Linked DNA regions of Homo sapiens. The protein of the gene in region 1 purifies or fractionates together with the protein of each later gene. This does not show direct contact. Each region holds a gene or a part of one and is shown on either strand. Other genes may lie near its edges. The genes, in order: TRABD, FCN1, ATP2B2 and DNAJC11.

Evidence for each region.
Region 2: the proteins of TRABD (region 1) and FCN1 purify together in Homo sapiens (affinity purification with mass spectrometry; 2 studies listed by BioGRID and IntAct, with this or other methods). This does not show direct contact.
Region 3: the proteins of TRABD (region 1) and ATP2B2 purify together in Homo sapiens (affinity purification with mass spectrometry; 3 studies listed by BioGRID and IntAct, with this or other methods). This does not show direct contact.
Region 4: the proteins of TRABD (region 1) and DNAJC11 purify together in Homo sapiens (affinity purification with mass spectrometry; 3 studies listed by BioGRID and IntAct, with this or other methods). This does not show direct contact.

What each region holds. Positions count from the first base shown.
Region 1 is NC_000022.11:50,181,611-50,189,493, reverse strand, and holds the start of TRABD (traB domain-containing protein), read right to left. Parts: upstream 3,582-7,883; 5' UTR 3,518-3,581; exon of another isoform or gene 3,449-3,517; intron 1-3,448.
Region 2 is NC_000009.12:134,907,547-134,915,442, reverse strand, and holds part of FCN1 (ficolin-1 precursor), read left to right. Parts: intron 1-633; coding exon 634-687; intron 688-1,022; coding exon 1,023-1,058; intron 1,059-1,829; coding exon 1,830-1,862; intron 1,863-2,299; coding exon 2,300-2,427; intron 2,428-2,827; coding exon 2,828-2,957; intron 2,958-4,175; coding exon 4,176-4,310; intron 4,311-5,397; coding exon 5,398-5,645; 3' UTR 5,646-7,896.
Region 3 is NC_000003.12:10,341,380-10,349,275, reverse strand, and holds part of ATP2B2 (plasma membrane calcium-transporting ATPase 2), read left to right. Parts: intron 1-3,138; coding exon 3,139-3,245; intron 3,246-3,700; coding exon 3,701-3,892; intron 3,893-6,310; coding exon 6,311-6,524; intron 6,525-7,896. UniProt on the Homo sapiens protein: ATP-driven Ca(2+) ion pump involved in the maintenance of basal intracellular Ca(2+) levels in specialized cells of cerebellar circuit and vestibular and cochlear systems.
Region 4 is NC_000001.11:6,649,507-6,657,402, forward strand, and holds part of DNAJC11 (dnaJ homolog subfamily C member 11), read right to left. Parts: intron 4,534-7,896; coding exon 4,405-4,533; intron 3,446-4,404; coding exon 3,323-3,445; intron 2,097-3,322; coding exon 2,023-2,096; intron 1-2,022.

The DNA.
Region 1 (7,883 bases):
GTGCAGCCTGGCAGGAAGCCAGACGCTTGTATCAGACCAGCTGTGCTTCACTCTCCCTGCCCCGCACGGACGTCCACCGAGCAGGACTGGGGTGGGTGCTGAACACGATTTGTGGGACATGCCTCCTGAGCATGGGTAGCCGGCAGACAGGGTCCTCAGATCTCAGACCCCAGTGCTACCCTGGGCAGGATGCTCTGGGCAGGAGCCGCCGTTTAAGGCGGGAACCTGCCTCCAGGGCCAGCATCCCACCTGCCCCACACAGGAGGCCCTCTCTGGGCTGCAAGCACAAGCCACATTCAGATGCTGCTTTAGCGGTCAGCCTCGGCCTCGAGCTTCTCTGCCGCAGCACAGTCTGTCCCGAAGGCAGAGAACGGGGTGGAGACCCACAGGGCAAGAAAAGACTTAGCAGCCCGATTTCAGGAGACCCTAGACACTGCCTCTGAAGACACTTGTTCTCCAAGCACTGTCCCTCATCTGTAAAAAGGGATATCTGGCTTTGGAAACCATGATCCTCTGTGCAGACGAAGCCTCTGAGAATTCCCAACAGCCCCAGGAGGACATCTGTTGTGCGCAAAAGCCCATCCGTTAGGGCTCTGCCTGAGGTGTGCGGCCCTAGGACACAAAATCAGAGCGGCATCTACAGTCCTTTGGCGTCAGAGACGGCTGTCTGCATCCGAAATGTCCCGCAGGGCTTCTGTCCCAGGACCTGACATCCAGTGGGAGCCTCAGACAGCGCATCCCACCTGCCTGCTCAGGTCCCACTGCTACAGACTGAACTGTGTCCCCCAAAACCCACAGGTTAGAGCCCTAACTCCCACTATGAAGGTATTAGAAGGCAGGGCCTCCAGGAGGTGATCAGGTTCGGATGAGGTCATGAGTGCATAGCCCCCATGACGGGGTTAGTACTCCTGGAAGAGACGCCACGCAGCTCTTGCTCCCCCGGGTAAGGACGCCGCGGGGGCCCGTCTACAAGCCAGGAGGCTGCATGGCAACCAGGGACCAGCACCTTTGATCTGGGATGTCCGGCCCCTAGAACTCTGAGAAAATAAATTTCTGTTAAGTTTTTTCCCAGCACCAGTGAGGCATGGTGGGAGGAGCCTACTCGCTCACAGCCCCAGCTACTCAGGAGAGGCTGAGGTAGGAGAATTGTCTGAGGTCTGGAGTTTAAGACCAGTCTGGGCAACTTAGCGAGACCTCATTTTTTTTTTATTTGAGACGGAGTGTCACTCTGTCGCCCAGGCTGGAGTGCGGTGGCGTGATCTTGGCTCACTGCAACCTCCCCCACCCTGAGGTCCAAGCGATTCTCCTGCCTCAGCCTCCCGAGTAGCTGGGATTACAGGCGTGCGCCACCACCCCCAGCTAATTTTTGTATTTTTAGTAGAGATGGGGTTTCACCATCTTGGCCAGGCTGGTGTTGAACTCCTGACCTTGTGATCCACCTGCCTCGGCCTCCCAAAGTGCTGGGGTTACAGGTGTGAGCCACTGCGCCAGGCCAAGACCTCATTTTTGTTTTTGAGACAGAGTCACACTCTGTTGCCCACGCTGGAGTGCAGTGGCATGATCTCGGCTCACTGCAAGCTCTGCCTCCCGGGTTCACGCCATTCTCCTGCCTCAGCCTCCCGAGTAGCTGGGACTACAGGCGCCTGCCACTACACCCAGCTAATTTTTTGTATTTTTTAGTAGAGACGGGGTTTCACCGTGTTAGCCAGGAAGGTCTCCATCTCCTGACCTCGTGATCTGCCCGCCTCGGCCTCCCAAAGTGCTGGGATTACAGGCGTGAACCACCACACCCAGCCCAGCCTGCTGTTTTTTAAAGTTTCCTGGTCTGTGATGCTTTGTTACAGCAGCTAGAGCTAAGACACCCATCTTATCCCCTTCACCCCACTAGAAACTGCCTCCCAGACTGCAGCCTAGCTTCCTAGTGCAGACCAAAAACTGGCTAGCACCAAATGCAGTTACCAGAAAAACCCCCATCTCTCAACCAACCCACTAGACCGGCTCAGAAAGCCCAGGTTCCAAACTGGTCAGACCTGGGGGTTGCAGAAATGACAAACTTGGAGGGACCAGGGTGTGGCCCAGAGCTTTGACCTCCCCTGCTTCCTGTTTCTGATGCCTGGCACCTTTGGCCACAGGAAACCCCTCCCGGCTTTGGCGGGACCGCTTCACGCAGGTGTGGCAGAGCTGGGAGACGGGAAACACACCTGAGCCAGAGCCCGAGGCCTCCTTGCCAGCACACCTGGCAGCCCCCAACCTCCCAGGACCTGGTCACAGTCAATGCAGAGCCCCCACACTGACCACCATGCAGGGGGCCCCACAGGCTCCTGCCACCCACCCACCCTGCCAGGCCCCCTCCTCGGACCCCACAGCATCAGGGCCTCCGGCGAGGCTGGCCAGCATCCCCACCAGTCACACTGCAAGGGCGGCGGCAGCAAGCGGGGAGCAGAGACACACAGCGCAGTGAGCCTGGCGGCCTGCACGGCCTCTTCAGGGACCTGAAAGCTAGGAGGCTTCCATCTGGAGGCTACCGAGGCTGCGGGAGTCCCCGCAGGGAGCTTAGCACCTCCACAAGTTCCTGGTTGTTTCTGGGACGCTAGTGCCCAGACAGCTCCCACTCCATCTTTCTTGTAAGAGTTTTGACAAAGACACACGGCAGCTTCATGATAGCTCAGTTAAAAAGACCTTTTAAGTTTGGGCTGCGCACAGCGGGGGACGATCTGGCGTCCACTTCGCCCATATGGGAACCCCGCTCTGCTCCAATTGAAGGGCAAAGGCACCTACAGAAGAGCGAAGCCCCAGGTTTCAGCGGGGCCGGAGGGGACAACGGGGGTCCGGGGCCTCCCGCTCGGCCTCCCCCAGCACCCCCAGAGACCCGCAGGCCTGGGCCGCCTTCCTCCACTCTCACCTCGGCCGGCTCCACCGCAGGCGGCAGGCGGGGGTGGCTGGGGCCCTCCCGACCCGCGAGGACCCTGGGACTCGAGGTCCGACCCGCGCCTTCCCGCGAGGCCGCCGCTGACCCTCCCCGCCCCAGCCCTGGGGGGCTCCGCTCCTCGGCAGCGCCGCTCCCGGCAGCGGTGGCAGGGGACGCGCGGGGCCTGCTCCCGCCCCAAACCTGACCCGGGCCTGACCCCCACGACCTGCTCCCCCGGCTCCAAAACCTGACCCGGGCCTGGCCCCCCCAACGACCTGCCACCCCGGCCCCCAAACCTGACCCGGGCCCGGCCCCCAACGACCCTGGTCTACCAGCCCCAAACCCTGAATCTGACCCTGGCCTGACCCCCACGACCTGCTCCCCCGGCCCCAAAACCTGAACCTGATCCGGGCCTGACCCCCACGACCTGCTACCCCGGCCCCAAAACCTGACCCGGGCCTGACCCCCCCCGCCCCCGGCCCCCACCCCCCGACTCGGGCTCGCTCCCCCCGCCCCCCACAGTCACCCCGCGGCCCTGACCCGGGCCCGCCCCCCGCTCGGTGCTGGGCCCCGTCCTCACGCACGCGCCGTCCGCGCCGCGCGGCGTACCGAGGCGAGGCAGCGGCGCTCCTCAGCCGGCCTCCATGCGGCGCGGGCCCTCAACGGACGGGGCGGGCTGGGGCCGCGGGGCGGGGCGGGGCGGACGGGCCGAGGGCGCCGGCGGCCGCGTGGCATGCCGGGAAGTGTAGTCCCACGCGCCTCCTGCTTGGCCCCGGCCCGCAACTTCGGACTACACTTCCCAGGGGGTAGCGCGCGGGGCCCCCGCCCCCCCCCCCCCCCCCGGCGCTCCCGGGTCCTAAGGAACATCGGCGCGCACTCAGGAGGGAGGGTTCGAGTCCCGCCGCGGTCACGGCCTTGCGAGGCGCGCCCACGTTCTCTGGTCGCAGCTCCCAAGCTGTGAAATGGGGACAATGCTCGCACGGCGTCCACAGGATGGTTTTCAGTCGAATGATATTGAAATGTAACTGTTCTGTGAGCCGTCAGTCCCGCACGAAAGGGACAGCCGATAGTGGGACGCGAGGAGCCGAGAACACGGGATCAGGGAACGCGCTGCCATGGCCTCGGCCTGGCCCCCTTCCCTCTGGGGATCGGCCTAGTCCGTCCTCCGGGGGTCGGCCCAGAGCGGTCCCCGACCCGGGACTCATGCCTCAGCGGGACCTCGGCCTTGCCGCAGGTTGGGGCACCCCGGGAAGGTCGGGCCCCAGGGGCCCCGCGGCCAGCCTAGCGGACGGAGAACCGGGACCAGGTGGGAGTCTTAGGGCGGGCCGACCCCCGGCCTCACGGACCCGGACGCTCAGTCACTTCCGATCGTCCGGAGGCCTCCAGGGGGACCCGGCTGGCCGCAGCCACGCCGACGCTAGACTCTCGCTGTGCGTGTTCGGCCCCGAGGGCAGGGGGAGACGGCCAGGCCCCACCCGCCGCGCCCGTCCTGCCCGGGCGCCCGGCCCCCTCGCTGTACCCAGCCTCTACCGGGGCGGCCGGGACCCGGCGGCCAAGTTGCTGCGCGCTGCGGGCACCGGCGCGGACGGGGGCCCGGGCGCTTCGCCGCCGCATGCAGACGACTCGCTGCCCGCAAGCTGCTGCGCCGTCCGCCTGCCCCGCTCTCCTGCAATGGTCCGGCCGCGCATCCCGGGCCCACGACTTCCTTCCTCCTCCACGACCCCGGGTTCTTGGCTGACCTGGCGCTGGCGCTGGGCTTAGTGCAGGCGTGGGCCTGGCAATGGTTTGCCTGCGGGCTGCATGCGCGGACCCCACAGCCAGCTCCCCGAAGCTCTGCGCCCACCTCTACGGCCCTGCCCCAGCCAAAGGATCAGGTTCTTGGAGCGGGGCCTGCCCTGGGGCCAGGACTCCAGTCACCGGGGGAGGGCTGCTGTGTCTTCCTGCCAGGCACTGATGAGTTAGTTGGGGAAAGGGGCCAGGTGGGGCCAGCTGGGGAACCATTTAGAAGAGGGAGGAGGGCGCACCTCTCTACTCGAGTGCCCTAGGACTAGCTCCTCTCTGGAGCCACGGGGAGGACCTCAGTGAGGGCTGCCCCACGCAGGAACCTTCAGCGAGCCTGGAAGGCTGACCCAGCAGGCCTGGGGTTGGGGGAGTCCAACGCAGCGCCCAGGCTTGGTCTGGGTCTGCCTGAGGCCGTCCACCAGGACTCCGTGCTGGGGAGCCTGCTTCCTTCCAGGCTCCAGGAAGGGAGGCCCCGGCCCCAGCCCCAGGTTCTGAGGAGCTGCCCCGGCTCGGGTGGCCTGCAGGGGTCCCCTCAGGTCCCTGGTCCTGAGTCTGCAGGTGGTCCTCCCGGGGTGGGGCGGATGGGTGAAAATGCCTGTCCACACGGCAGCAGGCTGGGCTGGCTGCCCACTGAGCATTCTTACACAAGAGGCCCCGCCCCCTCCTACAGCTTCCTGGTCCCCAAATGGCCAGGCCTGGCCTTAGAGAGGCCTCTGTCCTCCTTGGTGAAGGACACTCACTTTGGGCCCTAGGGCCTCTGGTTCACATCCTCTCCATTGATTCTCATTGTTCGCTGCCTTTGTGGTCATTCTGCCTTTCCGACCATCTCGGCCACATCCTCACAGGAGGGCAGCGGGTGGCAGTCGCCCCGGCTCCACCTCACCCATTTCTCAGTGCTGGGCTGGTGTGGAGGGAAGATCCCTGGCCTGGGGGCTGGAGGCCTGGGTTCTCAGTCTTGGCCATCTGGGATGGGTGCAAGGTCCTCCTGGAGCCCCTCCTTCTCCATGAGAGGGACGGTTCTATCCACCTGCCAGGCCTGCTTATGCTCAGGGAGGGGGAGGGGCAGGAGGGGGCACTATTTCAAACCAACGCTGGCCCCCGGGCTGCAGAACGACCCTCTGACTCACCTGGGCAAGGTGGCCAGTTGGGGAGGGGAGAGTGTCCGAGATCCCAGCCCCCGGTGGGCAGCAGACAGTGGAGAAGCAGAACTGCCCTCCGATCCGGCTGGGGTCCCCTGCAGGGCTGCACTAGGCTGTGAGGGGCGAGAAGCAGAAAAGGGGGAGATTGAGTCCTCAGGGAGCGTGCTGGGGAAACTGAGGCAGGACCTCAGCCGCAGGCCCTGGGCCACCACCCACATCTCAGGCTGGGCTTGTCTTCTAAAGTTCTGCTCCCAAGCCTGCTTTTCTCTGGGCAGGCTCTGTCCCTTCTGCCGTGGGGGGCAGGCGGGGTTGCCTTGGGAAGAGGGTCAGGTGGAGGTGGAGGACGTGCACCTGGGGTGCCAGAGCTTTTGAGGCCCTGACGCCGGGGGGCTGGCCATGTGGATGCCCTGTTCCTGGAGCAGCCAGAGGAGGGTTTCTGGAGGTGCCCTGGGGGGAGTGAGGAGGAGTCCTAGGGAGGGTGGGGGCTCTCAGGAACAGAAACAAACTGTGTGAAGCCATTTGTGCTGGGAGGGACCGTCTTGGTCCCCGGCTGGCTTTGTCCTCAAGGGGTGGACCTTGAGGAAGGGCCAAGTCCCATTCGGAGCAGAGTGACAGATCCCACAGAAGCAGGCGTTGGGGCAAGGGGAGGGAGGGAGCCCTATGGGGGAAGGCGGTTGGGGCCGGTTCAGCCCTGACCCAGTGCCAAGGGTGAGCGCCACCCTTTCAGGCCTCTGCCCGCCTGCCTCTAGGAACGTGGCACAGCTGGCAAGGACACAGCCAGAGGAACAGGTCTGGGGATAAGGTGGTGATGTTACCTGGGAGAGGTGGGAGCCAGCGTCTCACTGTAGGACGGACACCAGCTCCCCAGCACGGGCCGCGCAGAGGGAGGGCCAGCTCCAGCACAGGGCAGGGTGCTCACTTGAGGCATGAACCTCTTTCCAGACAGGAGTTGGTTTCATACCTCCTGCCAGGCTGAGGCGCACAGGCGGGGGATGGGCAGTGTGGCTGCTGCCCATGGCCCTGGTCACATTGAAGTCTCCAGGTGGCTCCACCTGAGGCCTCCTGTGTCCCCCGGCTCAGCTCAAGCCCCACCTCGGCCTAGACGTTTTCTGGGCAGCGACAGCTCCTCTCACAAGCTGGGAGGCAGGGCCTGCGGGACTCAGCACCACGCAGACCGGCTGCCCCCAAGGACTACTGGACGTCTCCCTACCTGAGCCGAGCCATGCGGGATGCCGGGTGGCTGCTGGGGCAGGGAGGACAGGTGCAGGTGGGCGGGGTGCATGTGTGAGGGTGAGGAGGGTCCCCAGCCCCAGCTGGCGAGCAGCAAGGACGCCCATGGCAAACGCTACCTCTGGAGGCCGCCATCCCTCGGGTCTCCTCAGCTGCCATGTCCTGCCCACCCTCACCACTGAGCTGGTCTGTGGGTGCAGCACCAAGGTGATGCTGTCAAGGCCCAGGGCTCAGCCCTCCCTGCACAACCAGGCTGGCCTGGGCCGGGATCTGTGACACCGGGTCCCTCTCCTGGACGTGGGAATGCTGGGCACATGGGCATGCAGGCTGGGGAGGTGTCCTGACTTAGGTGAGCGTGAAGAACTGCTACTTTCTTTTTTTTTTTTTTGAGACGGAGTCTCGCTGTCGCCCATGCTGCTGGAGTAGAGTGGTGTGATCTCGGCTCACTGCAACCTCCGCCTTCTGGGTTCCAGCGATTCTCCTGCCTCAGCCTCCTGAGTAGCTGGGATTACAGGTGCGCGCCACCACGCCCAGCTAATTTTTGTATTTTTAGTAGAGACGGTGTCACCATGTTGGCCAGGCTGGTCTCAAACTCCTGACTTCATGATCTGCCCACCTTGGCCTCCCAAAGTGCTGGGATTACAGGTGTGAGCCACCGCGCCCGGCCGAACTGTGCCTTTTATTTTCTGCTTTGTTGCTTTGACCTCTGAGGCCTTGCTGGCCCTGGTGAGACTGCCTCTCCTAGGGCCCACCGATTTGTCAGCAAACAACTTCCTGTGCAAGCTCCTGAGTCCAGGGCCCACACCCCCTCCAGGCCTCCTCTG
Region 2 (7,896 bases), on another chromosome or scaffold:
CAGTGGGCATGGCTGGCTAATATACCCTAAAGCAAGAACCAGCCCCCATACACTCTCCCCAGCCACTGGGGTCAGCGAGCGGGCTGGGGGCTGCCTCTTGGCTGGCATCGGGGACGGGAGGGTCACCTTTCTGGCCAGAACCACGTGGAGCGCTGTGTGACACCCCAGGAGCTCAGGCGCACGGTGGAACCGGATCCTCCCTGGCAGCAGCGGCTGCACGTGGCGCCCACCCTCTCCGTGTGGGGACGTGGTAGGATGAGGCTCTCTGAGGACGCATTCTTTGTTCCAGAACCTGGTCCCTTGCTAGGCAGTAGAGCTCTGTGTGGGTGACTTGGGTCCAGGCTTATGGTCAACAGAGTGTGAAACCCAGGTTGCTCCCAAGGCACAAACAGGAGCAAGGTGCACCTTGCCTTGAGCCCAAGGTGGGGTGCAGGCCCCTCCCTCAATCCCTCACCTCCATCTGCAGTCACCCCCAGGCTAAATCCATGGCTAGCAATTCTGAGAGCTCCTGGAACCAGAAGGGGTTCAAGGCAGAGTGGGGGAGGGTCAGGACTTAACCACTTGGGGCAAAGATTTCCAGGGAGAATTGTTTAGGTTGCATTTTTCTCAGTGATATGTCTTTGGAATTTTCAGGAGAACGCGGTCTCCCTGGAGCCCCTGGAAAGGCAGGACCAGTGGGGCCCAAAGGTAACCAGGGGACAGACAGCGAGGAGGCCTTGAGCAGGGACCTTGGAGCTGTCTGTAATGAAATGAGGGAGGGAGAGACAGAGACAGAGACACAGACACAGACACAGAGAGACACGGCAACAGAGAGAGAAAGACAGTGGCAGGCGGACAGGGACCCTGGGATATTCCAGGCCTCGGGGCCCCTCCCCACCATTGAGACCTGGGCGTTGTGATGCCTTAGTGAGCCTGCAGGGCTGGGGAGATGCAGTGTCCAGGCCGGGAGCCCACTCTGGACCAGCCTTTCCGTGGCCCACACATCTGGGGTCAAAAGCTCATTATCCTGCCTCTTCCTCCAGGAGACCGAGGAGAGAAGGGGATGCGTGGAGAGAAAGGTGAGCCACCCGTGGGCCCAGGCAGTTGTCTCTGCAGGCTTTGTCCAGGGGAGGGGTCTCAGAGGCCTCAGTCCGCCTGCCCACCGCCCACGTCCCTGTCAATCCAGGCTGTGGGCAGGGAGGGGTGGAAGGAGTCCAGCGGGCTTTGTTGTCAGAATCCACGAGGGCTCAAACCCTGGTGTCTACAGCAGTCACTCCCAGTGGCCAGCAGGACCACATCAGTGCATAGATGGTGACACTTCAATATTTCAATTTCTGTCTTACTTATGCTCATTTATGCAAAAATTGTAAAAGTTTAAAAAAGCCAAATGTGCAAGACTCTAATACACTGTACCACGCTCCACCCACAAACACAAATGAAAACCGGAGCCGGGGGCTGAGGGTCCGCCGATACCTGAGTCCCAAGAAACAGAGGCCAGGGCGGAGGCAGGGCAGGCTTGGAGTGACCCTGCCAGGCTTGAAGAGTTATTCCGCTGTTATCAGTGGCGAAGGCCCCACTAGGGGTCCAGTTCGTCCAGCAGGACCCGCAGCGCCTGCCACAGCCCACCAAGCTCAAGCTGCACAGCAGGGGCCTATGGACAACCATGTGGCTGGTGCCTCTGGGGAAGTCGAGTCTGGCCATCCTTCCCTAGGCCTGTGCCACGTGTCCTGGAGACATCAGAGGAGCTGCCTTTGCCCATTCTCTATTCTGTGCTCAGGGAGCCACTGGGGCTGACCAGGACAAAGGCTCTGATTTCAAGCTTATGACAAGTGTCTCCTCTCCCCACACAGGAGACGCTGGGCAGTCTCAGTCGTGTGCGACAGGTGACTGATCACACCCTGACCTCGGTACCCAAGCCTTGCCCCCACCCCTGGGGCCAGCTGCACACGTTCACGCTACGGAATCTAAGGACAGAACCCTGTCTGCACCTATCATCCCCCCCTCAATCACTCGAGTAATGGGCAGCTATCACCTGAATCCCTTCCATGACAACCTGGGCTCTACTATTATCTACCCTAGAAGGCCGGGTGCCCAGGAGGCAAAGGTGGGGCAGACACTGGGAGGTGGGAGGGTCGGCAGACTGGGTGTGGGCATCACAGCTGCGTGGCCCTGGGGGCCGTGTCCCTGTCCAGGCCTCGGAGTCCTGCTCGGTCCGCACAGAAGCCTGTGGCCCTCCTCCTCCCTCCTGGGCCTCCCTCCCACTGCCCCTGTCCTGCCCAGGGCCCCCGTCCTGCAGCCATTCCCCGGGTTCCCTTCCCAGGCCCACGCAACTGCAAGGACCTGCTAGACCGGGGGTATTTCCTGAGCGGCTGGCACACCATCTACCTGCCCGACTGCCGGCCCCTGACTGTGCTCTGTGACATGGACACGGACGGAGGGGGCTGGACCGTGAGTGTGGGGCTGGGCAGAGGCGGTCAGCCTGGGAGTCCCGGAGGCCAGGCTGCACACCTGGTTGTAGAACACACTCTGGAATTCTCTATTCCCCTGGATGGGGACAATCATAGATGATGGGGGAAGTGACCCGTGGGTAAAAGTCCAGGCCATCGGGGAGGCTGGGAGGGGACCGGTGCTCTCCTGCTGTGTGGCTTGGGGCTTGTTGCCTCTCTTCTCTGAGACCGCATTTCCTCTTTCATCCTGTGGAGTCTGTGAGGAGACCAGATGGGCGTGCGTGTGGCACCGGCCTGTGATGCTCTGCCAACTACAAATGCTGCTCCTCTGGAGGGCGGGTCCCCGGTGCTGTGGGACCTCGGCCTGCCCCGCCTAACTCTGTATCCTGGCTTCTTCACAGGTTTTCCAGCGGAGGATGGATGGCTCTGTGGACTTCTATCGGGACTGGGCCGCATACAAGCAGGGCTTCGGCAGTCAGCTGGGGGAGTTCTGGCTGGGGAATGACAACATCCACGCCCTGACTGCCCAGGGTAGGGCCACTGCCGTGGCTCAGGGGTTGGGGGGCCCTGAGGTGCTCCTGCCCCTTAGGCCTGGGCCATCTGCAACATAAGCACCTCTTGGCCCACAGGGGATTGGGCCCTGAGCACACTCAGGTGGCACTGGGACCTCTAAGGGCTGCGTCCCCTGCCGCAGGCTCTGGCAACATCGGGAAGGGAAACGGTTAGAGCCCTGGGCTGAAGGCCTCTTCAGGTCTTGGTCCTACTGGCATCTTAGATCCTGAGAGTGGGAAGCAGGAGAGAGACCACTGGGGCTTGGGGTAGCCTTCCCCCATCTCCAGCTGTTGATCTGCCTCTGAAGCTGGCATCTTAGTCCCATGGAGAGCCCACGCTCGCCTCCTCCAGCCCACGCCTCAGCAGGCCCCCCACAGCCGCACTCACCTGAGTGAGAGGGCCTCCCCCCAACCCTCTGGGGCAGGGGATGAGTTTCACAGCTGGTCCTGAGGCAGTCTGTATAATTGCTGGTCCATTATCCCTGCCCACTGCCCTGTGGCATGATTGAAGGAATCCACTCAGGTGCCTCAAATTCCTGCAAAAGAAACTACAATTAGAGCTTCGCCCACTGCTGTGTTAGTGGCTCACCAACCCTTAGAAGGAGAAGGTACACTTTCAAAATGAAAGAATGCTCCCTTCCACCCAGTGAACTCCAGTGGGGCATGTTCAGTTCTCTGAAATAACGGGAAAGGTGTTTAGAAACAGAAAGCCATCCCTGAGGGCCTGATAGCAACAAGGGATTTTCTGACATTTCCGGTTGATTTTTTTCCTGGATGCCACGTTCAGACATCCCTTAAGAATATATCCATCCCCAGCCGGGCACCGTGGCTCACACCTGTAATCCCAGCATTTTGGGAGGCTGAGGCTGGTGGATCATGAGGTGAAGAGATCGAGACCATCCTGACCAACATGGTGAAACCCCATCTCTACTAAAAATACAAAAAAAAAAAAAAGTAGCTGTGTGTGGTGGCACACACCTGTAATCCCAGCTACTGGGGAGGCTGAGGCAGGAGAATTGCTTGAACCCAGGAGGCGGAGGTTGCAGTGAGCTGAGATGGTGCCATTGCACTCCAGCCTGGGCAACAAGAGCGGAACTCTGTCTCAAAAAAAAAAAAAAAAAAATTACCCATCCCCAGCCCTCATGCCTGGTGACAGAAAGATCTTAAAGGCTGGGGCCTTAAAATCTTTTTCCAACAGGAAGCAGCGAGCTCCGTGTAGACCTGGTGGACTTTGAGGGCAACCACCAGTTTGCTAAGTACAAATCATTCAAGGTGGCTGACGAGGCAGAGAAGTACAAGCTGGTACTGGGAGCCTTTGTCGGGGGCAGTGCGGGTGAGTGTCTGCTTGGGGCTGGTGGCCTGAGTGGGGCTTGGAAAGCAGAGAGAACCTGGCTCTGTCTCCCCTGGTGACCTTGGGCCCTCCTCTCTCTGAATCCCATTTCTCCATCTATGAAGCAGACACTAGCATTTGTGTCTCTGTACAGCGTGGGGCTCACAGGACATAGCGGCTGGTATTCCTAAGGCTATGTCTGCCGCACAGTGAGCTGCCTGGGCAGGGCTGAGACGACCCACCAGCATCACTGCTGAAACCTGGAAGACGTCGTCCTTTTCTCATGGGTGCCTTGGAGCTGTTTCCCAAACTGTGCTCCATGGAACACCAGCCTTGTGGGACATTCTTTACCAAAAGGAGTCTCTGGCTACACGATCTGGGGAGGCATTTCCTACAGGGCGTCTGCTTAGGGAATTCCCAGTGCACATCGTTCGTGAAAGGCACTGAGAATTGCTGCAGCTGGAAGTCTGTGTAACTAACTGCTCCATGGAGCAAGGCAGTCCCAGGGGAGCCTTGGAAATGACAGCCTTGGAGTCTGTGCAGTCCTTTCACAGGCACGATCTCACGCATGACCTCCAAGGAAGGCAGCAGGGCAGGGAAGGTCACCCCCATTTTGCAGGTGGTAAAACCGAGGCTCAGGGGGTGACATTTCTCAGCTATAGGAGCCAGGGATGAGCTTCCGGCTCAGGGCTTGAGATAGAGGAGAAGCCCCCAGGTGAGGGCTGTCCTGAACCTACCAAGGGCCACCAGGGGACGTGGGGAGAGACCGGAAGGAGCGGCGCAGGCTGGAGGAGGGAGGTCATTCCAGGAGAGAGCAGGAGGCCTGACAGTTTGCGGGAGCCCTGGAGGAAACAGGTGGTTGCTGGAGCAGGGGCCTCAGGTTGTGGAGAGAGATTTCCAGACCAGGTTGCCAGAGGTTGCCTCCTGCTTCCCCTTCCTCCAAGGCCTGGGTGGGTCATTTGTGCACCTGTAGCTCGGCTCATGCGTCGCTAAAGTGAGGTTGGCTCTGCTCAGAGGCAGGATGTGGTGAGGGTCTCACAGTGGCAGGGCTTTTTCCAGCATCTGCAAACCCCACATTTTCTGTGAGCAGGTAATTCTCTAACGGGCCACAACAACAACTTCTTCTCCACCAAAGACCAAGACAATGATGTGAGTTCTTCGAATTGTGCTGAGAAGTTCCAAGGAGCCTGGTGGTACGCCGACTGTCATGCTTCAAACCTCAATGGTCTCTACCTCATGGGACCCCATGAGAGCTATGCCAATGGTATCAACTGGAGTGCGGCGAAGGGGTACAAATATAGCTACAAGGTGTCAGAGATGAAGGTGCGGCCCGCCTAGACGGGCCAGGACCCCTCCACATGCACCTGCTAGTGGGGAGGCCACACCCACAAGCGCTGCGTCGTGGAAGTCACCCCATTTCCCCAGCCAGACACACTCCCATGACGCCCACAGCTGCCCCTTTGCCCCCAGCTCAGTCAAGCCGCCACATGCCCACAACCTCACCAGAGGGAGAATTATGTTTCTAAATATGTTTACTTTGGGACAGAAAAGTTTTACCAGTTTCAATGTGTGTTTCTTGAACACCAGTGGTTTTGATCACTTTCCTGTGTCTGTTGCACGGCAGGTCTTTCCCTGGAATTTGGTAAGTCGGGAAGAGTCAGGACCCTTATTTAGCAGATGGCACTACCGATGTTCAGGGAGGTTGAGTGACTTTTGCGAGGATTTTCCACCTCCAGTAATTGACACAGGGCGATCCTCACCTCCACCCCCAAGCCTCCCCCATCCCCCCATGCCTCACTCACAACACTTCACACTTCTTGAAAAAGGTCACTTTGGGGTCCAGAAAACACTTACTAAAAAGGGGGAAAGTTTAGTAGGAACTTTTCTGCTTCCCACCACGGCAGAGTTCATGCTTTGGGCTGGCTGGCTGCTGGGAAGAGATAAACACTTAGCACTCACTAAGTGAGCGCCTGGTCAGCCACCTGCACAGAGAAGATTCCGAAGAGGCCTTCCTCCCACACACAGACCTCAGCTAGAGGGGACCGCGGACCTCAGTGGGAAAAGCTGCACAAGGCTTCTAGGAGATGATGGAGAAGGGGCTTCTCCAGCTCCCAGGCCAGGGGAGATTTCTCAACCACGACCTAAGAAGCATCAAAGGGAATGTGGCAAGTGTGACTCCATTCAAATCAAGAGCTCCCACTTACCGAAGGACACTAAGGGAACCAAAGGAAGGCCAGAGGGGCAGAATCAACGTGCGGCACACAAATCTTTAGTTTTCTACTATTGCCGCAACCAGTCACCACAAATGGAGTGGCTTGAAACAACAAGAACTCGCCACCTCCTGGCTCAGTAGATCTGGAGTCCCTGGGCCTTACTGGGCCAGCAGGCAGGACTCAGCAGTGGTGGCTCCTTCCAGGGTTCTAGGGGAGAACCTGCTTCCTTGCCTTTTCCAGCCCCAGGGGTCACTGGCATTCATTGGCCCGGACTCCTTCCCCCAACCCCAAAGCCAGCAGCACCACATCTCTCTGACCCTTCATCCGTTGTCCCCTCTCCCCCCAAGCCCCATGGGACAGGGTCTCCACTCCTGAGACTCATGGGATTAGACTAGGCCTACCTGGATGATCTGGGATCCTCTCCCATGTCCAGGTCTCTATCCCTAACCACATCAGCAAAGTCTCTTTTGCCATGGAAGGTATTTGCAGGCTCTGACTTTGTGTGTATTAGGGCAGGACATTTTTGGCGGGGCAGTGGTGGGGGCAGGGAATTATTCTGCCTACCATGCCTTATACAAAAATAAATAAATCACAGGCTTATACCTGAAAGAATTCCTGCAAATAATAAAAGAATTAGAGCAGCTCAGTTAAATAAAAAAAGGTATGAGATGTGAACAGACACTTCACAGAAGATGACATGCAGGGGAGCAAGGTATTTATCAAAAAGTGCTCCACTTTTCACTTACCAGAGAAATGCAAATCAGCACCCAAAGGAGTCACTGCGGCACCCTCATCTGAGCCTCAGAAGTTAGAAAGATGGATAGCACCAGTGTCAAAGGTGACTGTGGGAGGGAGATTTGCATACACTGCTAGTAACAATGCGAATTGATGGAACCAACCTGGAAAATGGCTTGGCATCAACTGTTGGAGAAGAAGACACACAGTCCTCTAACCTGCCAGTCCCACATCAGGGCCTGGATATGGCCGTCATGTGTACCAGGGAGCATGGCCAGGAATCTTTACAGCCAAATACTCACCATAGCACCAAACTGGAATCAGCCGACATACCCATCAGGAAGAGAATGGATGTTAAAAAATGCAAGGATAGCCATTGGGTAGAACGCCATACAGCCATGACAATTACACAGTGACACCTACACACAAGGAGCATGAGTCTCACAAACATGGCAGCAAAAGGAGCCTGTTCAAGAGGGTATGTGCTATGGATTCCATTGTAGATAAAGTTTTTCAAAAGCAAAAGTAGCCAATGGTATTTTGGATGCATATTTAGGTGGTAAATGTATACAGGAAAAATAAGAAAGTGATTGTATTTGAGGGTGGGACCACATGGTGACTGGGAAGGGACAGGGACAAGC
Region 3 (7,896 bases), on another chromosome or scaffold:
TCACTATATTGCCCAGGCTGGTTGCAAACTCCTGGCCTCAAGCAGTCCTCCTGCCTTGGCATCCCAAAGTGCTGGGATTACAGGTAGGAGCCACTGTGCCCAGCCAACTGGGTATTTTTAGAGTCACGTGGTCCTGGCTTTGCCACTGACCTGCTCTGTGGCCTTGGGCAAATCCCACTCTGGGACTCAGTTTCCTCATTTGTAAAATGGCTATGGGAGCAGGGCTCCACTGGAGATCAGCCCTAGAACATCTTGGATTCCTCTTTCAAAGGTGCTGCCCAAGGACATTAATGGAAGCAGATCTGGCCTGGGGAGAGAAACCCAGAACCCCAGAACCACAAGGGAGCAGAAGGCGCCCAGCCCATCCTTATTCTTATTCATTCACTCATTCTCTCCATAACTGTTTACTGAGGTCCTGCCAGGTGCCAGCCCTGCTCAGGACAGGCCTGGTCCTGCCCACGTGGAATTCATGGGCCAGGCTGCACGCAGCAGGCATTGAATAAGTGGTCCCTGCATAGAGCAAAAGGCTGCACTGCTGGCATGGGGTGCTCTGGACCCAACACTGCCTCTAACTTGGACTAGGGAGGCTTTAGGTCACAGGCCATGGAAGGTGGGATGGGCTCCAGGGTTGGTAGGGCCTGTGCTTGAGGCAAGGCAGGGAACTGCTCTGCAAAGGGCTAGAGGCAGAAGATCCCCAGATGCCTTCAAGGATCTGGGCCAGGACCTCGGGGTGGGAGAGGGAAGCTACAGGAGACTGGAGCAGGTGGGAGGGCAGCAGATCCTGCAGGGCCGCCAATGCCCACCACGAGCACCCCGTCATGGCCTGCACCGTGTCACCAGGCACAGGAACATGGGAGGGTTTAGAGGGTAGAAGCATCATTTTAGAAAACTTACCCTGCAGTGCAGAGCACGGCCTGGCAGTGGAGGGACCTGTAGGATTGTCCTGCTTAAGAGTTGTCACCTGCCCACAGTGGTGACACCTCAAGTGGAGCTGCCAGGTGCGGGTCTGAGAAAGTTTGGGTAGTGGAGGGGTCTGGGCTGGGTGGTGGTTTGCATGTCATGGAGGGATGAGGAGCAGGAGGGTCTGGGATCCCATCAGTCTATACCTGTTGGAGAAGAGCATTGGACATCGAGCGAGGAGGGAGAGCAGGCCTGAGACAGAGTCCTGGGTGGCACATGTGGGTGGGGAGAGAGGAGCTGCAGAAGCCAAGAGCTGCCCGAGTGATGGTGCAGGCTGAGAACCTACAGAGGAGGCCAAGGGGAGGAGGCTAGAGGGGCAGGAGGATGGTCAGTGGGGAGTGGTGCCGGGAAGACAAGGAAGGAGGCCTGTGGAGGAGGAAGGTGTGGTCCATGGTGGAAATAGTTGCTGAGAGGTCTGCGGGGACAGAACAGAAATGTGACCATAGGAAGCAGCCACAGGGAGGCCCCTGGTGACTGCACACAGTCAGGCCACCCCAGGACTGGAGGCAGGGAGGCGTCTAGGGAGAGGTTTCCTCCCAGCTTTCCGCACAGCTTGAGCTACGCAACGGTCCGCACCACCTGGGAGCCACAGGGCAGAAATTTGACCCGTCCCTGCCTTGGAGGAGCCCCCAGGCTGACTGAGGGAACTATGGAAACTCAGGCCTAATGTCCCAAGGGGACAAGCTTGGGGAGGCTGAGTCCAGGACGGTGGAACTGAGGGGTCACCGACAGCTGGGTGGGAGCAGCCCAGAACGATTCCCAGAACACACGGCACTGCAGCTGGGCCTGAAAGAGGGTAGAGCTGCAAGGGAGCAGGTTGGGGGCACAGTGCCCCAGGTTATGGAACTCAGCGCCTCATTCCACAGGCTGCTGCCGTCTGCTAGGCACAGAGCAGAGAGATGCGCAAGGATGGAGCAGCACATAGAGTTACATGGATCTGATTAAGGGCAGGCAGGGATCCTCAGAGGGTCAGAAAGGCTTCCTGGGAAAAGCAGCCTCTGAGCCAAAAATACAGTACAGGTGGGTGACAGGAGTACCTCCAGCCAAGGGAACAGCCTGCCCAGACACAGGGCCAGTGAGAGCTAGCTCTGTGGGACCGTAAGCACAGATTGGGGGTGGCCAGGGGATGAGAGAAGAGAAGAGGTCAGGATGTGAGTGAGGCCTGGTCACAGAGGACTTCATAAGTGGAGCTAAGAACATGGATGTTATCCTGAGACCAAGGGGGGAAGCAGGAAAACGACATTCCGGGGATGGCTGGGGGACGGAACTGGTTCAGACATGGGTGTTAGAGAGATCCTGAGGTTGCTGTGGGGAAGCAAGTTGGAGGGGGAGTCCAGAGTCAGTGAGAGGAAACAAAGTGATGCTGGTGGCAGAGGGTGGAGACAGAGAAAAGGAAGGGTTTCAGTGGGATTTTGGAGCCAGAATTGGCAGGCCTTGGTGATACATTCAATGTGCAGAATGAGAGACCCATGGATGCTGATACCCAAATTCCTGTCGTGCCCATGGACATCCCTGCTCGCAAGCCCCATGAATGAGGAGTCCCACAAACTCCACAGGTCCCCACCGATGACATCCTTCACCCACCCTTTTCCACTGGCCCCAGCTCAGTGACTGGGGCCACATGTCATTTGTTCATTCTGTTATTCGTTGAATGTTTTATTGAAGATGAATGTCTGGAGGGAGGTCAGGGCCAGAATGGTGGGGCAGAGGTCACTGGCAAATGACAAAGCCAAGGCCTCCTCAGCAAGCCTGGACTCCCCAGGGAGAAAGTGCTGGCTAGTGGTGTCGGGAGGAACAGATGGTGAGGTCCTGCTGAAACCCTGGGAGCCCTGCTGAGGCAGAGGGGGCCCTGAGCACAGTTAGAGGATACAGTGTTTCTGGTTAGGATGGATGCCAATGTGGCCACAGGTTGCAGACAGCAAAGAGGGGGCTGGAGAGGTGAGCAGGGCCCGGGCCACAGGGGGCCCCAAGTCGGCACCAGCCCAGTAAGGAGCCCACTGTAACCTGCTGGCAGCTATAGGCCAGCCTGGAGCTGGGAAGAGCCTGGATGGAGGGGGCGGCTGGACAGGGACCAGAGAGGAAGCCATGCCCAGCCAGGCCCCTCCCGAGGACCAGGGCTGGCCCAGGCTGCCTCCCACCTGAGTGGCCCAGGGCCTGAGCACACTCCTGCCCCAACAGGCATCATCGACAGCACACACACTGAGCAGCGGCAGGTGGTGGCCGTGACGGGGGACGGGACCAACGACGGGCCTGCACTCAAGAAGGCCGACGTGGGCTTCGCCATGGTAGGAACGGCCCACAGAGGGCCTGGGGTGGTGGGGGCTGGGGAGATTGGACTACACAACCTTGGGCTGGCTACTCAGGAGCCCCAGTTCACACTTGGCCCACCCGCCATCTGCCGTGGGTGCCCACCCTTCTCGAGACTCAGCCTGACCCCGAGGTCTTCCTGGAAAGGCATAGGATGCTTCTTGCTCTGGGGGAGCTGTGTGAAGGGGGGCACTTGCAGGCTGAGGAGGAAGATAACAGAGGGGGAGAGGGGGCCAGGGTGAGGCTTCCTGAGGGTGAAGGGAGCTGGGTCTGTGAGGAGCGTGAAGAGTGGGGTGTCCCTGTGTGGTCTGGCTGTGCTGGGCCCACTGGGAGTTGTGTAGGACTGAGGAAGTGGAGGGAGTGAGGATGGTGATGCTAGAAGTGGTCACCTCCCCCGGCCACCCCACCCAGCCTCCTGTCCCTGTCCCCACAGGGCATCGCAGGCACTGACGTGGCCAAGGAGGCCTCAGACATCATCCTGACAGACGACAATTTCAGCAGCATCGTCAAGGCAGTGATGTGGGGCCGCAACGTCTATGACAGCATCTCCAAATTCTTGCAGTTCCAGCTCACCGTCAACGTGGTGGCCGTGATTGTGGCCTTCACAGGCGCCTGCATCACGCAGGTGGGTCCGCAGGAGACCACACCAAAGCCTGGGGGAGGGCGGAGACCCCCCACAGAGGCTCGGGGGCCTTAGGGTACTCCAGGTTGTCCCTGTCAGAACAGCCGGGGATGAGGCACCCATCGATGGAGCACCTGCTGGGGGCCAGGAACTGCATCACAGAGCTCAGGTGCAGGCACTGGCCCCAGGGGAGTCGAGGACATGAGGCTCAGAGAGGTGGCGTGACTTGTTCAAGGTCACCCAGCAAATGGGAGCTGTCAGGCTCACAGCCTGGCCCTCACTGCAGGAGGCAGGAGAGGGAATCCTCAAGAGAAGGCAGGGCCCTTGGCCACCACGAGGGCAGAGGGAGGCAGGGAGGGGCAGGCCAGGGCCCAAGGGGGATCAGGCATCCAGGTGAGGACAAAGAGCCAGTGGGGGCCCTGGGGCCCTGGCTCTGGACTGGAGTGTGGAGTGCCTTAGGAGGTGCTAGGTGGGGATAACTGGAGGGAGTCGGGGATCTTGCTCACTGGGAAGGTCACAGAGGAGTCTGGCCAGATACCACGACTGGGTCTGGAGCAGCCCTATGCACTGAGCCTGGCAGGCAGGCCCCAGATGTCTGCAGACTGACTGCTTCTTCATGCAGCTCCATGAGGTGGGAACTGTGATGATCCTCATTTTACAGAGGCAGAAACTGAGGCTCAGAGGATGGACTGGCCAGGGACCTGCCATTGTTCTTGCAGTCTCCTGATACTCCCCACAGGGGCTGACCAGCCTGGCCAGGGAGGCAAGAATGGGTCTCCCTTAGCCCCAGGGGATCCCCAAGGCCCAACACTCCCAGTAGCCACCTGGGCAGACAAGCCCATGCCCACAGGAGCCCCCAGAGGCCCAGAGTGCAGCACTGCCCCAAGAGCTGTGTGGCGCTGGAACACTGCTCCCCTCTGTTGCTTCCTGCGCTGGGGGAATATAGGTGGCAGCTCCGGCTACCCCAGCCCTGAGAATCGGAGCCTTGGGAGGGTGGCTGGGGGCTTCCTTTTGCTCAGAAGGGCCCTCTTTCCTGGCCTGTGGATGAGACACTCCCTCTAGTGGCAGCTTGAGGAACACTCCTGCGGCCCCAGCAACTTGGAAACCAGAAGGTCTTGATGCCAGATAGGGAAACTGAGATTCTGAGACCACTATCAGTTTGCCTGAGGTCTTTGATTGAGTTGGTGGCGAGGCCATGCAGCATTGATAAGAAGACGGGCACACTTGACCCTGAGGTATATGGAATTAGAGAAAGCCCGGGGTGGGGAGGACGGGGGCAAGGGGAGCGAGGCTGAGGCAAGGAGGAGGTGAGAGAGAAAGCCAGGAGCAGGGGCTGTGATGAAACCTGGGAGGTGATGAGTGGAAGGGATGCAGGTATATGGGGCTTTGGGAGAGAACAGAGGTGGGAAGAGCATCGGGTTTGGGCTGTTGAGCTTACAGGGTCTGGGGGCTTCCTGGAGGAGGTGTTCCACAGGCCACTAGACGGATGTAACTAAAGCCACAGGACGAGGAGGAGAATGGGGCTGAGGCAGGAACACAGATTTAAAAGGAAGGGAGGACGACGACCAGGAGAGTGGGGTCAGGATTACAAGTGGGAGTGCAGGGGCGAGGTCAGTGACATCTGGCCGAGAAGAGGTCCTGCAACTCGTGGCACAGAAGGTGCTGGTGACGTGGGCGGAGGGCATTCTGGGAACGTGGAGGGGCCAAAGTCTGGCTGCTGTGGACAAGATACGTGGGGGTGTGAGGAAGGATGGGGACAGAAGAACCAGCTCCTCTCAGCCAAAGAGACAGGTCTGAAAGGGTCCCTCCCAGAACCTGGACAGTGGTGACCTAAAAGTGGTGAGGTCCTTGACAGTTTTAGTTGCTTTTGCTATTCCTCATTTGCCATATTTCCTACCTTGAAATGTATTAATTTTTGAGTCATAGATACGCACAATAATTTTTTAAGGTAAGGCGGGATAAGAGGGGAGGAGACATTGGGGGGGTGGGGGACGGGCACTGTTTGTAGGATAGAAAGCCCGAGGGGGAGGAGGCAGTGGGGGGAGGAGGTAGGAGCCCATGCCGGAGGCGGTGGGAATGGTCTTGGCCTCAGCCAGGAGAGACCCCCTCCTCGGGGGCTGGAGGGGAGAGGGGAAGATGGTGAGATGCAGCTGAATTTACCAGAAGGCAGGGAGCTGGTGGCCATTGGGCCTGGGGGGACTCACTTATCTCCTGGCAGGGAAGATGTGGCTGAGGTGGGCAGGTCTGCACTGTTCTCCAGAGAAGGCATCAGAGAACAACTCCATGCCTGCTGGGGAGCCAAGGGGCAGGTCGGACTCCAGCCTCCAGCAGGAGCCTGCGGACACTACACCATGAGCCCGCCCAGCACTTCACAGCAGCAGGTGGGCGCACAGGTGACAGCCCTCTCCTGCCCGTCCCCAGGACTCCCCTCTGAAGGCCGTGCAGATGCTCTGGGTGAACCTCATCATGGACACGTTTGCCTCGCTGGCACTGGCCACTGAGCCGCCCACGGAGACCCTGCTGCTGAGGAAGCCGTACGGCCGCAACAAGCCGCTCATCTCCAGGACCATGATGAAGAACATCCTGGGCCATGCTGTCTACCAGCTTGCCCTCATCTTCACCCTGCTCTTTGTTGGTGAGCGCCTCGCCCACCCACGCCTCTCCCAGGCGGGGTCATCACCTTCTGGGTGCACCATGGCTCTCACCCAGCATTCTCGAGTCACAACCCCCTCCTGTTTTGCTAATGGGGAAATTGAGGCCCAGGGAGGTCAAGTAAGTTGCCCAAGGTCACACCAGCAAGTCTTGAACAGGGCCTGGCCCTGTCCCAGCTCTGGCTAACCCTAAAGCCATCAGTGGCTTTCTCCACTGGTGACAGCTCCTGGCAACAAGTACAGACCGTGCAAGGCCCTGACCGGGTGCTGAAGCACTGCATGGCAGCCCCAGAGGCACCTGAGGCTGGGAGGGGAGTGACTCACCCCTTCTCTGACCCATTCCAGCACCTTATCCTGGCCCCGTGGAAGGGACCCTCAGCAAGGCTTCCTGGGGCAGGGCATACACGCTCACACCACCACCGACTCTCACAATGCTTCCACTTGGGCTGCCTGGTTGGGTCTTCCACTCAGTGAGGCAAGCACATTTGCCTCCACCCCACATTACAAACGAGGGCACCAAGGCTCAGAGAGGTGAGGTGACTTGCCCAAGGGCACACAGCCAGTCTGAGGAAGAGTCTGGGCACAGAACCAGGTCTGGCTGGGGCCAAGACTGGCCTGGTTTCCACAGATGCTTCGGAGGCAATCCCAACAAAGCCTATCCCCAGGTCACAGATGGGGAAACAGAGGCCCAGAGAGGGGAAGGGTCTGGCCCGCAGTCCCACATGGAATCAGGGCCAGTTCTCTCCTTACAGGAGCCTCCCGGAGCTGGCCTTTCACTTGTCCTCAAAGCCCAGAGTGTGATGGAGGTGGGCATGGATCCATTCCTCAAAGGCAGTTAGTTGCCTTTTATAAATTTTGAAAGTAGTGTGTTGTCAGGACACATTTTACTGTTGTAAAACTTATCATGAAAAAGCTTAGAGGAAGCCACTTATATGCAGAACTAGAAGAGACTCAGAGGAGGTGGAGGGGTTGGAGAGGAGAGGAGAGCGGGGGTCCTGGTCGGCTTGCTGGCTTGACCACTTGAGCAGCACCTACCCTGGGTAGTCTTGGGACATCTCACACCCAGAAAACTCCACAAGCCTCCTGGCACCACTTTACTCAGCTGTGCAAAAGGACACAGGACTTGGCCAGGTGCAGTGGCTCATGCCTGTAATCCCAGCACTTTGGGAGGCCGAGGCGGGTGGATCACTTGAGGTCAGGAATTCGAGACCAGCATGGCCAACATGGAGAAACCCCATCTCTACTAAAAATACAAAAATTAGCCGGGCGTGATGGTGCGCACCTGTAATCCCAGCTACTTGAGAGGCTAAAGCAGGAGAATCACTTGAACCCAGGAGGCGGGTGTTGCAGTGAGCT
Region 4 (7,896 bases), on another chromosome or scaffold:
CCCCACAGGCCACGTCCTCCTGTTTCGCAGGCTCTCTCCCAACTTCTCCTGCTCTCCCTACAACAGGCTGACCTGCAAGCCTGCCTGTGTTCTCTGCCCCATGCCCCACAGACAAACGACCAGACTAGTGGGCAGGGATTAGGTCAACCCCTGCAGAGCGTGGCAGGCACACAGATACATGTCTCATTGGAAGTGTAATAACTAACTTTTTTTTTTTTTTTGAGACAGTCTTGCTCTGCTGCTTAGGCTGGAGTACAGTGGTGTGATCTTGGATCATTGCAACCTCCGCCTCCTGGGTTCAAGAGATCCTCCCACCTCAGCCTCCCAAGTAGCTGGGACTACAGGCAAGCGCCACCATGCCTGGTTAATTTTTATATTTTTAGTAGAGGGGGTTTCGCCATGTTGGCCAGGCTGGTCTCGAACTCCTGTACATGTTTGTACATGTTTGTACAGCCTACAATACATGTTTGATAAGAAAGTTATTCATGCCACTGTGCCTGGGCACAGTGGCTCACACCTGTAATGCCAGCACTTTGGGAGGCCAAGGTGGGAGGATCACCTGAGGTCAGGAGTTAAGAGACCAGCCTGGCCAACAAGGAGAAACCCCAACTCTACAAAAATTAGTCAGGCATGGTGGTGCACACCTGTAGTCCCAGCTACTCAGGAGGGTCACCTGAGCCTGGGAGGTTGAGGGTGCAGTGAGCCAAGATTGCATCACTATTCTCCAGCCGGGGTGACAAAGTGAGACCTGTCTCAAAACAAAAAACATATACTCCAGGCTTGCTGAAGTGGCTCATGCTTCTAATCTCAGTGCTTTGGGAGGCCAAGGTGGGAGGACTGCTTGAATCCAGGAGCTTGAGACCAGCCTAGGCAACATAGAGATAACTTATCCCTAAAAAAAACTAAACAATGAGCCAGGCATGTTGGCACACGCCTGTAGTCCTAGTTTTTCGGGAGGCTGAGGGAGGAGGACTGCTTGACCCCAGGAGTTCAAGGCTGCAGTGGACTATGATCGGACTATTGCACTCTAGCCTAGGCAACAGAACAAAACCTCGTCTCTAACAAAAATAAAGTAAAATAAAATAGGCCAGGCGTGGTGGCTCACGCCTGTAATCTCACCACTTTGGGAGGCCGAGGCAGGTGGATCACCTGAGGTCAGGAGTTCGAGACCAGCCTGACCAACATGGTGAAACCCCATCTCTATTAAAAATACAAAAATAGCTGGGTGTGGTGGCACACGCCTGTAGTCCCAGCTACTCGGAAGGTTGAGACAGGAGAATAGCTTGAACCCAGGAGGCAGAGGCTGCAGTGAGCCGAGATCACACCACCGCACTCCAGGCTGGGCAAGACAGAGCAAGACCCTGTCTCCAAAATAAATAAATAAATAAAATAAACTCCATGTGCTCCATTCTAGGACTCCTTCAGCTATATCTTCCTCTGGAAGAAAGAGGTATTATTTACCCTCCACCAATTCTTTTATCTGAGCTCACACAGACATCACTGCACCCACCATATAGGAAATGAAGACACTGCTGTCGTTCTAGAAGGGACAGGGATATACAGTTCTAGGAGTGTGACATGGCAGCAGCAGAGACGACAGGAAGCAGAGGCTGGCTGGGGACTACATCTCTGGCATATGTCAATCAACCCGATGATGAGGCAGTCTGTCATTCTCTGGGACAATGGAACGATCCATAAGTCTGTAAGTGTTTCGGTCCACTGACCAACTCTCCCTGAAGGCACTCTTTCTCCGTGGCCTTGTGGCATAGGTAAGGGAGGTGCGAGACCTGGATGGTGCAGCCTGGCCAGGGCTGGGACAAGGGTCCGGCCCCCTCAATCCTGCCTCTTCCCACCTGCACACTGCCTGGGCTTCACGCCAGTGCTATACCTGCCCTTGATGTACGCAGTGACCTTGTAGGACAGACAAGATAGTGCCAACCACTGTGATAAAAAGAACACACAGTTCTAGTCTCCTAAGCCAACAAAGACCACCAAAGAGGAGCTGCTGTCTCTCATATTTACCATCTTGGTGTGAGATTACGGAACAGCTTGAGACCGAACAAAGGCCCCTGTAGGTCTCCAGCTCCAAATTCCAACTGTTTGAAAAGGAAAAAGAGAAGGCATTAATGGTGTTTTATCTCATAGCAGCAACCCAGGCTCAGGTATGTACCTCTAGGTATAATTCCTTCATTCAATTCACTGGTCTTGCCAGGGCTCTAAAAGAAGGGGGTGGAAGATTGTTAATGTCTCATCTTAACCTTTGCCAAATGGAGCTGTCTGCTGCCACAGATCCAAAGGAGACCCAGGCTTCAAAGGCACATGTTTCATTGGTGTCCCTCCAAAGAAAAAACTGCTCCCCTCTGTTCCTTGCCTCCCAGGCTGAGGTCAGGAGACCAGCTGGCTCCCCCTACCCCTCCCGGCGCAGCCCCCCGCCACCTGCAGAGCACCGACTGCGGTCCGGTGTGCCCCCCACCCCCGCATGCACTGCCGACTCCTTTTCATTTTCATCCTGCGCCAAATGTCTCCCAGGTCACTGGGGCGGTCCTCAGGAGCCTGATGTTAAAGCCCAGCCGCGGTTCCACACCCGCACAGCCTTGGAAGTCACAGCTGAGCCTGGCTGCCGTGTTTACTAGTCTGGGTGACTTTCAAGCAACTCTTCAATGTTAATTTGATGCAGCTCAATTTGCTCGGCAGAACTGGCTGTTAAATGGCCACCAATCAGTGAACCATCACGCGGAAGAGAGCACCTGCCTTCTGAATTGTGCAGGAAAAAGAGCCCACAGGCTTTTTGCTCAAAGGGAACAAACACACGGAGTTTCAGAGGCTGGATTTCTAGAAGTTGGCATCTCATAGGAAACCTTGTTTTTCTATGCCAATTTTAAACTGTGAGGAAGACTGACAGGACTTCTCAGATATGAGACCTATTTATTTATTTATTTTTGAGACGGAATTTTGCTCTTGTCCCCCAGACTGGAGTGCAACGGCGCGATCTTGACTCGCTGCAACCTCTGCCTCCTGGGTTCATGTGATTCTCGTGATTCTCCTGCCTCAGCCTCCCAAGTAGCTGGGATTACAGGCAGGTGCCACCATGCCCAGCTAAGTTTTGTATTTTTAGTAGAGACGGGGTTTCACCATGTTGGCCAGGCTCATGAGACCTATTTTTCTTTTAGGACCAGTCAACTTATGGAAGCTTGACACTTGGTACCGTTCTTACACAACAACGGGGCCCCCAGGGTGAGTTTGAGGGTGAGCTTTGAGAGTGTAAATGTTCAGAAATAAGGCTTTGCACAGACAACACAACTCAGCCAATAGACATTCTTACCTCTCCCCATCCCTTTGCCGAAGTTACTCGTCTGAGCGCAAAGTTAATGGAACCTCCTCCATTTCCATTCTGGGTTGAGAGGCTTCCAGAGAGGATGGCTGTGTCTGTCGCTGTCAAGGGTGCCTAAAAATGGTATTTGCTGGTAATGAATGAATCAAAACAACAGGAAGTGCCAATGGCAGCAGCCTAAAGAACGCACTGTGAGCCCAAGGCCAAAGGTGCAGACGATTCCTCTGTTCAGAAGCACACATGGATGCAGAACTGCCGCAACAGCTTCACTTTTCTTCCGCTTTGTTATTTGGTCTGCATGTGACCACGAGGGTAATATGCTTTGCAAAAGCTTTAATGGGCACATTTCACAACACCAGGGGAAACATGGGGCTGCATGTCCCAATGGTATCAGATAGCACAGTGACTTCACTGTGTGCCTTCCCTCTGTGGTTTGCCATCAGGGTTCCAGGGGGACTGAAGACCTTCCCATGGCTGTATTCTGTATCAACTGACTCAGGGAGCTCCAAGAGGGGGCAAATTTCCCCAAGTTAGGACTCCACGTTGTTGGCTGATGCAATGGAGAATAAATTAATGAGCTGAGGAGACAAAGACCTACTATAAACGCTCAGGAGAATGACCTGACCTCGTCACATCCAAATAGTGGGCAGAATGGTGACATTTTCGCGTGCCCAGGGCTCAGGATGAGAGCTGCTATAGCCTTGCGGCACCTAGCAGAATTTGCCTTAAAACTAAAACTGGTTGTTAGAATGATCCATGGAGGTCTGCTTTCTCTCCCAGAACCCCATGACCTTGGGCCTCTACTTCTCCCAGACCATTAACACCCTCTGCTGGAAAGGCCCAAGACCTTGGGAGCCAAGTGCCCCAGCCCACACTCCTGCTGGCTCACATGCCAGCACAGCGGTAACACACGGCTGGGAATGAAGCGCTTTCTTTTTTAAGTGGCTAATTGCATCCTTTCATAAATAAAGATGAGAAAAACCCTGGGCAGACTCTCATTCCAGCTGCTTGGTGTGCTGTGCCTCATTAACTCGAGCCCTTGCTGTACTCGGAGAGGTGGTTGTGTGCTTTACCTCAATGGACTGGGATATGTGCATTTTATTAATTTCAATCTGCGGAAAGCTACTGCCGGACACATCTTCATACTCCTCATCATAGCGATCAAAAAGGTCGGTGGCATCTACTCCAACGCTGATCGTTCCCTGGGGCAGAAAAACAAGCCGTCAGCAGAACGGGTGGTATTTGTGGAATGAAAGACAATGCTACACTTCAACAGCCAGCTCGCTTTAATTGAACAAGTCATTTGACTTCAGGGTTCACTGGGTTTAGGTAGGACACTCCACCAGGAAGCCCACAAAGCATGAATGTCACAGTCCGAACCAAACTGCAGAGCACCACAGACGTCCAGAGCTAGAAAACATCATTTGACCAGGAGAGCCGGTCCGCATGTCTGCAGAGCAATGACACGCCAAAGACAAAAGTGTTAGTCAAAGGAGTAAGAGCTAGACAGTTTGATTTTCAGAGACCAAACAGGACCCAAGAATGCACAAAACCACCTAGAAATGAGCTACATGGATTAAACATTTTTTGGTAAACAACCTTATACCACAAAACTACCCTAAAACTCTTTAAATAAAAATACCTTCAAAGATAAAGCAGCACAAATTATGAACAAATGGGAGACTTTAAAATTAATCCACCTTCTCAAATTAATGAGAATTAAGTTTGAGAAACAGAACACTGTATTTGCTCAAGGAATTCTAAGCTAAAATTTTGCTGATAAAAATGCTTGTTACTCAGAAAATCAATGTTTATTATTCTTTGATAGTCACAACTTTAAAAACGGACATTATCTTAATCCAGTATATAAAACCATGGCCACACACATTTTTTTAACTAAACTTTTTGCAGCCCATTGAAACAATGTTTTTTTGCTAGCTTTTCTTTTTTTTTTTTTTTTGAGATGGAGTCTCGCTCTGTCACCAGGCAACATTAGCCATTAGTCCAGTGCAGTGCAGTGGCACGATCTTGGCTCACTGCAACCTCCGCCTCCTGGGTTCAAGCGATTCTCCTGCCTTAGTCTCCCGAGTAGCTGGGACTACAGGCGCACGCCACCATGCCCAGTTAATTTTTGTATTTTTAGTAGAGACAGGGTTTCACCATGTTGACCAGGATGGTCTCGATCTCTTGACCTCATGATCCACTCGCCTCGGCCTCCCAAAGTGCTGAGATTACAGGTGTGAGCCACCGCGCCCAGCTGGTGCTAGCTTTCTATCAGATGCTTCAATCTGAAAATGCATTAACCCTAATAATTACTTGATTTCTGTTGAGGGTGAAACACCTGACATTATGAATGCTACTATAAACTCAATCAAAAAGTTCCACATTAAAGGTAAACGTGTTTGTTTTTGCGGTGATATTCAAATACCAACTTGGAGGCAGTATAGTGTTATGGTAAAAAATTTTCTTATTAAATCAAGAAACCCATGGACTAGAAACATCCTTAGAATTAGTTGTAGTGATACGCATAATGCATAATTGTGTCAAAACAAGCTGTGGTATTCTACCCATGGAAAATGAAGTTGTAGTTGCCAAAATTTACAAATTTTTTATATTCACAGAGTAACAGCATGAACACATCTCTGTCATGATGATGATTCTGAATAATCAACAAAACTGCATGGCAGTATATGAACAATCTGTGGCCAGGTGTGGTGGCTAATACCCGTAATCCCAACACTTTGGGAGGCTGAGGGAGTGGGATCACCTGAGGTCAGGAGTTCGAGACCAGCCTGGCCAACGTGGTAGAAACCCTGTTGCTACTAAAAATACAAAAATTAGCCAGGTACACGTCCCAGCTACTCTAGAGGCTGAGGCAGGAGAACTGCTTGAACCTGAAAGGTGGAGGTTTCAGTGAGCCAAGATTGCGCCACTGCACTCCAGCATGGGTGACAGAGCAAGACTCTGTCTCAAAAACAAGAACAGGCCGGGTGTGGTGGCTCATGCCTGTAATCCCAGCACTTTGGGAGGCCGAGGCAGGCGGCTCACGAAGTCAGGAGTTTGAGACCAACATGACCAACATGGTGAAACCCCATCTCTACTAAAAATACAAAAATTAGCCGGGCGTGGTGGTGCGCACCTATAATCCCAGCTCCTCAGGAGGCTGAGGCAGGAGAATTGCTTCAACTTGTGAGGCAGAGGTTGCAGTGAGCCAAGATTGTGCCACTGCACTCCAGCCTGGGCAACAGAACAAGACTCCGTCTAAAAAAAAAAAAAAAAAAAAAATTACAATCACTGAAAATAAAGCTTGTAATGAAAAATAATCTGAAGCTGATCTTTTTAGGGGGAAAAAAACCATACAAAATAAATAAGAGTTTATGAGATATAATGAGATACAATTTTGAAATTCCATAACGGCATTTTGGAGTATCTTTATTTTGTGTAGGAATCTTGGTGGAGCTGTCATGTTTAATTAGGTAAATTTATATTCTGTTCAAGAATGAAATGGAATTGAAAAGGTCTACAGTTTTATAGCATCTAAATTTGATAAAACATTCAAAAGATCATAAATAAAGATGATTTAGAAAAATGTGTCAAAGAAAACTGTTGTGAATAAAGTTAAAAAGACAATACCTGTCAAAATACTTGGGCCAAGATATTTTTATGTTCTAATATGAAGAAATTTAGAATTGAGAGAATATTTTCTAAATTAAAAATATGATATACAGAGATGAATCAATTAAATGTGTCAAAAATTTCAGCTGAGTGCTGTGGCTCACTCCTGCAATCCCAGTACTTTGGGAGGCTGAGGTGGAGGGATTGCTTGAGCCCAGGAGTTCGAGACCAGCCTAGGCAACATGTTGAGACTCTGTCTCCACAAAAAAAACTAAAACCAAAAAAAAAAAAAAAAAGTTTAGCTGGGAGTGGTGGTATCCGCCTGTGGTCCCAGTCACCTAGGAGACTGGGAGGATTCCACTGGGAGGTGGGAGGATTCCTTGAGCCCAGGAGGCCAAGGCTGCAGTGAGCTGTGACTGTATCACTGCACTCTAGCCTGGGTGATAGTATGAGACCCTATCTCAAAGTAAAATATAACTTGCTAAATATAAATGCAACTTTCATAAAGATGGTAGGCAATGTTATAAAAGAAAAAGACACAGGAAATACACTCTTCAAAAAATAGTGTGACACACTGTGGAAGTCAGATCAAAGGCCTCCTAAGGAACCATGCCTGCGGGTACTCACACCCTTGTACAGAGCCCTCTCCTTGATCCTGAACCTCTCAGGTTCACAAAAGCAACTCTCAGACTTGCTTTTGTCCAACAGAATGCGTGGATGTGATGGTGCTGACTTCAAGACCAGCTCACGAGAAGCCTTGCAGCTTGGCCCAGGTCTCTAAAATGCACTATCTGGGGGACACTAGCTAATACGTATTAAGTCCAACTACCCAGAGACTGCTGTTGGCAAGGAAGCCTGAGCTGGCCCGGGGAGAGGTTGCCTAGAGAGACAGCGATGCCAGCCACCTCCGCTGAGGTGTGTGAGACATGAATGCAGAAGCCACTGCTGAC